2 linked regions of the Homo sapiens genome follow. The protein of the gene in region 2 purifies or fractionates together with the protein of the main gene of each other region. This does not show direct contact. Each region holds a gene or a part of one and is shown on either strand. Other genes may lie near its edges.

What was found.
Region 1: the proteins of SMYD1 (region 2) and SPSB3 purify together in Homo sapiens (affinity purification with mass spectrometry; 2 studies listed by BioGRID and IntAct, with this or other methods). This does not show direct contact.

The regions. Positions count from the first base shown.
Region 1 is NC_000016.10:1,775,955-1,779,829, forward strand, and holds the end of SPSB3 (SPRY domain-containing SOCS box protein 3), read right to left. Parts: exon of another isoform or gene 2,659-3,875; coding exon 2,481-2,658; coding exon of another isoform or gene 2,368-2,480; coding exon 2,180-2,367; exon of another isoform or gene 2,095-2,179; coding exon 1,992-2,094; exon of another isoform or gene 1,919-1,991; coding exon 1,793-1,918; exon of another isoform or gene 1,490-1,792; coding exon 1,143-1,489; 3' UTR 758-1,142; downstream 1-757. Other genes in the region: structure-specific endonuclease subunit EME2, read left to right, coding at 1-32, 114-284.
Region 2 is NC_000002.12:88,066,325-88,069,924, reverse strand, and holds the start of SMYD1 (histone-lysine N-methyltransferase SMYD1), read right to left. Parts: upstream 2,101-3,600; 5' UTR 2,061-2,100; coding exon 1,924-2,060; intron 1-1,923. UniProt on the Homo sapiens protein: Methylates histone H3 at 'Lys-4' (H3K4me), seems able to perform both mono-, di-, and trimethylation. Acts as a transcriptional repressor. Essential for cardiomyocyte differentiation and cardiac morphogenesis.

The sequences.
Region 1 (3,875 bases), on a different chromosome or scaffold from region 2:
CAGCCTTCCCCTCCCCCCGCCTTCTGCAGCAGGTGGGCCCCTGCCTCCTCCAAGCCCTCCAGGTGCAGAAGCCCCGTCCCCAGGCGCCCTCTCATGCCTTTGCCTGCTCCTAGGCGCTGGAGGCCTGCAGCACGGAGCGGGAGCGCATGGGCCTCCTGGCCGACCTTCCTGTGCCGCCCAGTGAAGGCGGGCGTCCCCGCAGGGTGGGGCCTGACCTCTCCCGCCGCATCTGCCTCTTCCTGACCACAGCCAACCCTGATCTCCTGCTGGACCTGGGCTCCTGACCACACGTGGGACCACCAGGACAGCATGCAGCCTTGGGGACAGACCAGACACCCTGGGCGGTGGGGGAGGACCCCCAGCCACATGTGGACCCTCAGCCTGGGTGGGTTCTCTGGCTGAGCAGGTCTGACCTCAGGGGAAGGGTGGGTGGTTGCAGGGGAAGTTTTAGGTAGCTGGGAGAAGAGGGGCTTCTGGCTGGCAGATGGCTGGCGGTTCCTGTGCTGAGTCCTGAACACGTAGGCCCCAGGGGAGGCCTCAGCAGCAGGGCTGTGCCCCCCCAACACACACACACACTCGGCAGGGACCAGAAGGCAGCTCCAGGGCCCCACTGCCACCTGGAGGCTTGGGGTGTGGCACCCTCAGCCAGAAGCAGTAGGGGACTCCCAAGGATGTGGAGGGGCAGTGAGGCCTGGGAGAAGGCCCAGGCTGCTCGCAAGCCCGGCCTCTGCACGGATACGTTTCAGCTCACGCCATGTGGGTGTTAGACATCAACTCTACATTTATTGCAGTCCTTTAAGTCTATGACGGCGGGGCAGCCGCTGACAGCATGCAGAGCAAGTTAGGAAAAACCGAGGCCCTGTGGGAACAGCAACGCGGGCTCCAGCCAGGCTCTCGTCCTCGCAGCCTCCCACAAGACCTGGGGCTCAGGGCAGCCGCTTCCCCACCCAGCACAGCAGCAGAGGGGCCCTAGAGCCCCCACAGAAAGGACTGTCCCAGCCTCGGGAGCAAGAGATGGCTCCCTCCGGACGGGCCTCATCCAACTCCGCCCTGGAGTGTGGCTGGAAGGAAGGGACAGAGAAAGAAGGGACAGAGGAAAGGGGCTGTCCCAGCCCAAGAAGGCAGTTCCACTGGGAAGTCAGTCAGGTCCGGCGGCAGCGCTTCCTCTGGCAGGGCCGAGGCTCGCGACTGCTGGGGTGGGCGGAGGTCGCTGCCTGGGGATCGGACACTGGAGCCTTGCGGCGGCTGCAACTCATGCTCAGGACCCAGCCCAGCTTGTTGTGTAGCACCTGCTTGAGGCCCGGCGGCAGCGGCAGACCCTCCAGCGTGTCTCCCGAGTCTGGCCGCAGCTGGCGCAGGCGGTGGCAGCACAGGTACTGGAGGGAAGTGGCGCTGGCACAGGAGCGGGTGACCTTCATGCTGCTCCGGGCCGCCGTGGAGCACACCATCGGGTAGAATCTCTTGTTCTGCAGCTTGGTGGCTGCCACACCTGGAAGGGAGGGGCCCAGCCTGAACCCCAGGCAGGGAAGGGGCCAGCTACTGGGCGCAGCCCCTCAGACCTCACGCTACAGTCACCCGGGTGGGCAGCTGGCACAGCTGAGGCAAGGCAGGGTGCACGCGCTGGCCCTGCCACTCCAGCCTGGCCTCACTGTCCCACCCCCTGGGACCCTGGGGCCTCAGGCTTCTGGGAGGAACCCTTTCAGAAAACCTCAGTGTCCCCTGGGCTGGGGCGGGGTGGCTGCCTCCCTCGGGGTGACAGCTGAGAGGAGCTCAAGTCCTGTGACGGCCTCACCTATACACTTCCTGTTCTTGAAAAAGGTGAGTGTGCCGTGCCAGGTGTCCAGGTGCACGCCAATGATGGAGCCCTGGCCGAACCGCGATGAGAAGCTGGTCTTGTCGCCCTTGTGGTGGAGGAGGCCTGGGGGCAGCCAGGGTCGCAGTGAGCCCGGGAGCTCCAGGCTCGGCCCCGCCCCACCCTGGGCCTCACGCACCCGTGTAGGAGAGGCCCCAGCTGTCCTCATCCCTGCCCAGCAGGCTGCAGAACGTGTGGCGGTATTTGTCCAGGTCCACATCCGACGTCCCGATGCCCACCATCTAGGAACAGGGGCCAGGCAGAGGGCGCGGGGCTGGGCTGCCGGAGCCAGGTTCCCCAGAAGCACCCTGGGCCGAAGCAACTTACCATGTCGGTGCCGTAGACGGGAGAGGTCATCTTGATCTCCCAGAAGTGCTGGCCCTCCCCCAGCTCCTTGGTGCCCCGGATGGCCGCTGTGCCGCAGCTGTACTCCATGTGGAAGCTGACCTTACGGTTGTCACAGCTCAGCAGGGTGGCTGATGACTTATTTAAGTCATCCCAGACCCAGTCGAAATCTGCAAGAGAGGCCCAGGCTGGGGCAGCCCTGAGAGCTCCATGGGGCTCTGCCCTGCCCACCCCCAGGCCCGCCCGCAGTGCAGTCCCAGCAGGGGCTGGGCCCCACGCTCACACTCGTCTTCCTCTCCGCAGCGGCAGTCCCTGCCCCGGTGGGCCGAGTGCAGGCTGCTACAGAAGGAGGCCTCGCTCTGCCCAGCACAGTCACAGAAGGACTCGCCGGTCACGGGCACCGCACTGGGGATGGATGGCGGCAGCGTGGAGTACTCGGGGTCGGAGTCCGAGTCGCTGTGCTGGGAGAGAAGGGCCGGCTGTTACTACCTGTTGCCCGCTCTCTACCCTCTCACCCTTGCCCTCTGTCCCTGTCCCACCCTGTCCCTGACCCACCCAGGAAAGGATGGGGGTCCAGGCCTCCAGGGACTTCACAGTACCCCGAGCGCACAGCCCAGGCTCCCTCCCAACGGGCTCCGGCTCTGCCCCATTCTGCATGACCAGGAGGGCCCTGGAGGCCCAGCCACAGAGCAGTAGCCAAGGCTGCCTGGCCTCCAAGTGGTTTCTAGACGGTGGATAAGCCCCAGGTCCACCCCACCTGCCCAGAGCTGAGATGGTGTGGACACCTTCCCTGCTAGGCCAGCCCTGCAGGGGCCCCCAGGCAAGGCCACCACCCCCACACCAGGCCCAGCTGCAGCCACCCGGCCTCAGGGCAGTCCCCACCACACTGTGGCCCAACGACCTTCCTGTTACCTGAGCAGACCTGGCTCACCACAGGGTCCTACTGCCCAGTGCCCACTACAGGCCCCGCCCCTCCTGGTGCAGGTTTCAGCTGTCACCTCCCTGAGGCTTCTCCAGCCCCTTCACCCCTGTTCCATTTTTCTTCTTTTGCTTCACTGAAGTTCTCCTTGGTCCTGATTCTTGGCCTCCTCCCACCAGAACGTGAGCTCCTTGTGGGAGGCAGTGCCCCTCCCAGCCTCCTCCCTGTCACAGACTGTGTGGGGGCCACCCAGGGGCTGAATGGACCAGGGGGTCAGCAGGGAGAGTGCTAAGTGGTGGCGGGGGGCCTGTGGCAGAGGCCTTGTGACAGTGAGGGTTGAGGGCTGGTCCAGAGAGATGATGTGATCCCCAGGAGAAGCCACAGGGGACCATGACATGGGCGCCACCAGCTTCCAGGTGAACGTGGACCTATCGAAAGCCAGCTTCAGGGCAGGACACTGTCCTTTCTGGAGGGGATGGCCCCACCCCACAGACAAGGCAGGCCCAGACAACTCTACCCCACTGCCTAGAAGTGCGGGTCCCCAGAGCCAGGGTAGACCCCCTGAGTCAGGAGCCCGGGCACAGAACTGAGCACCTGCACTGCAGGCCCAGGGCCGGGTTCCCTGGAGAAGGAGAAAGACTGAAGCCACTGCCTACCTCCTGCCCACAACAGACTGCAGGCCCATTTGGTGACACAGGACAAGCAGCACATGTGTCGAACACTGCCGAGCCCGCAGGCACGCCTGCATCCCACAGCCAC
Region 2 (3,600 bases):
GCCAGTCATCAGCAGGTAATAGAAGAAGACGTAGCCCTTAAGTACTATGTCTCTGAAGAGTGTATAATAGCACAGAAGATGTCAAAATTATTAAATGAAAAAGCATAATAGCTTGTATAATGAGTATATTACAGCCAAATGAAACCTATGTTTTAAAACAAACCGAAAATAGATACCCAACATGTTAAGAGTGGTTATCGCTGTGTGATGTCTTATCTTTCTAAATTTTCTAAAATGACAATGCCTTGCTTTTATAATGGAATGAAAGCCCATTCAACTTTAACCTTCTTGAAATGGAACTGATTGGCTAGATTGACTTTGGGGAATTGGAAGCAGCAAATGGAGATGTTCTTCACAAGGCCAGGCAGTAACTCACTGGCAGCGCCAGAATTAGTGTTGACAGTCCCTGTGTTTCTGGGTTGTTTTCACTCTGAATCCAGCTGGCTCCCTAACTGTACTCACCCCTCCCCTGACACATACACATACACACACACAGATTAATGAAATAAGACAAGCTCCCCCTGAAAAAGTCACCTCAGCCCCTTATTTTCCTCAAGTGGTGGTGAGCCATATGCCCCAGTTCACACCCTTTTCCCTGAAGGTCTTAGTGGGCAGGAAGACAAGAGAATGTGAATACTAATCAAGTTATCTGTGGGAAGCAGTGCCCTTTCCCAGGGTGGTCAGTGCAGCCAGCCAACCACAAAGCCTAGGTTATCAGACTCAAACCACATAGATGTCAAGCAGGTCACCCCAACCTTGATCTCAGAAAATATTGACAATTTAATGTAATCACCATGTAGGTTTGTTTAAAATGAAGATTTATTACTAATTTAAAAGCTTGGTAGTCTAGTGTGGCCAAGGTCGTGAGGAAGCGGGAATGTAAATTTAATAGAGCCTGTTTGGAGAGCCTATAAAACTGAAAACATCACATCCTACGGCCCAGCAATTCCTCTTCTAGTCCTGTGCCCTGGAGAACAATCGAACATATGTACAGGTAGACACGATCAAGGATTTTCATTTTATTTCATGAAAAATTAAAAACTACCAATTGTCTCTCAATAGGGGAATGGATAAATAAAATGTCATATATTTATAGGATGAAATATTTAAAATTAAGATTGATGATTCATATGGCATATGAATCTATATGGATAGCTCTATAAAGGAAATAGATCTTTGGAATTTAAAAGAAGTATCTATAGATTTAAAGTTCCTGCAAGGATAGACATCAAAAACGTGTTGTTTAGGGAAAAGAGTGAGTTCTAAAATGACATCTGAAGTATGACACCATTTCTGTAAAAAAAAAAAAAAAACCAGACAGACTACAGCCATCCATCTTGTTAAGTGCAGATATATGTATGTAATAGCACAGGAACATTCTAGAAGGAAATACATTGAAATAATAGCAGGGGTAATATCTGAGGAAAGACAGAGGGGACTGGGATTGGGTGATACTCAGATTTTTCAAGGGAAAGTGGATTCCTGGGTTATTCATAATTATAAATATACAAATAGTTCATAATTTTTAAAGTCTCAGCAATTACTTTATCTGGTAATGTATTTATAATAAAAAGAAAGCTAAAAATATAGAGCTTTCTGTCGGAAAATGTTTCCCACAGCACCACACCCACCTTTCCACTCCCAGCACACCCTCTCAGCCAAGTTGGCCAGTATTGGGAGAAAGTGCCCCCGAAGCCTTTGCTCACCTTCACCACCCTTCTAGGAGCCACAGCAAATCACACTGGCAATGATCCCTTGCAGAAAAATTTGTGCCAGAAAAATTAGCTCTCAGAAGTGCCATTTTGTTGAAAAAAGAGCACATGAATTTTATCCCTTCCCCTGATGATTTTTGAGAGCAAAGTATTTTAGAGTTTGGCCCCAGCCAAACTAACAGGAGAGAAGGCAACTCCCCACATTTCATACCTGTCAAAAACCACTGCGGAATAAGCCCGCTCAGCAAAGATGATATCTGCAGCCCAGAACTCCTTGGTGGCCTTCAGACCCCTTCCTTTGCCCTCAGCGGTGAAGACCTCCACGTTCTCCATTCTCCCTATTGTCATCTCAGAGACTGTCAGGCCAGCGCGGCAGTTATTTAACACTGAGCCAAGTCTCTTGTCATTGCTATTTCAGCACCTTCAGCATCCCAAAGAGCAAGACTATAAATGGACAAGCCACCTCCCCTTCCCTACTCGCTCTCAGCTACTGGGCCCTCACCTCCCCCTCTGCTACTTTTCCTGGAGGTGGGGATGGGACAGACAAGAGAACAAGTGAACTGGGAAGAGTTTCATTCATCACCCAGCAAAGCCGACAGAACAGAAAATGACCATGGGTTAATATGGCATAGGGCCTGAAAAGTTTTGAGAGGTTCCATTGCAAGCAGAAGCTATCTGTATGTGCTAAGTTCTGAACTGCAACAATCCTGTTCGGCTTTAGTTGGAGTAGGGAACATTTGGTCAGGAGGGTATTTTTAGCAGCCAGATGCCTCTGTCAATCAAAAGCAGACAGCTGGAATGGTCCCATAGAAACAAGGTGATATTTGCTGCTCTGGGACCCTTCAGCTGTCAGGCTTGCACTTTCTCAAGTGAGATGGGCCCTCGCCCCACCCTTTTCAGTCTCTCTCCCAAGGGTGGACTGTTTAGCAGCAGAAGCTAAACTGAGGGCTGGGCACGGTGGCTCACGCCTGTAATCCCCACCTTGGGAGGCCGAGGCACATGGATCATCTGAGGTCAGGAGTTCAAGACCAGCCTGACCAACATGGTGAAACCCCGTCTCTACCAAAAATACAAAAATTAGCTGGGCGTGGTGGCGGGCGCCTGTAATCCCAGCTACTGAGGAGGCTGAGGCAGGAGAATTGCTTGAACCTGGGAGGCAGAGGTTGCAGTGAGCCGAGATCGCGCCATTGCACTCCAGCCTGGGCGACAGAGTGGGACCCCGTCTCAACAAAAAATTAATAAATAAATAAATAAATAAATAAATAAATAATAAGAAGAAGCTAAACTGAGCCCTTGGCATATACGTAACAGTACTATTTAGGCTCCAAGGGGGCATTTTTCCTCTCCAGTATCACCTGGGGCTCTTACAGCACCCCCTACTCCACAGCATGGAATTCCCTGTTCTTAGCACTGCTGGTGATGCTGGTATGCTGGAGGCAGGCTGGATACAGACAAGGCAGGCTATAAAAATAGCAACCCCCATCTCTATCTTTCTATCAAATTTCCTTTAACATGTGTCTGCTGCCAGGAAAATACCAACGTGCTCTGTCCTTCTTCTTACTCAGGAGTGAGGACACTGGAAAGACGAATCTAAAATCCCCGTTGAACTAAATGCCACTGTTCTTGGCTATCAGGCAGCTTTTACTGAGGTTTAAAAGAAATACACTTGCAGATCTGGAGCTCTGGCTTGACTTCCATGTAAGATTTTTAGTTCCTGGGATGCATCTATTTCCTGGTGGGGGTTGGGGGTGGGGGTGACGGCGGGGGTGGGGGGCAGTGGGCAGGGGCATTTCCTGGATTTTTCTGAGTGTATGGTTTCTGAGTCAGATGAATCTGAGTTTGAATTCTAAGCCTGCTACTACCACTTGAGATGGAACCTGTGAAACAA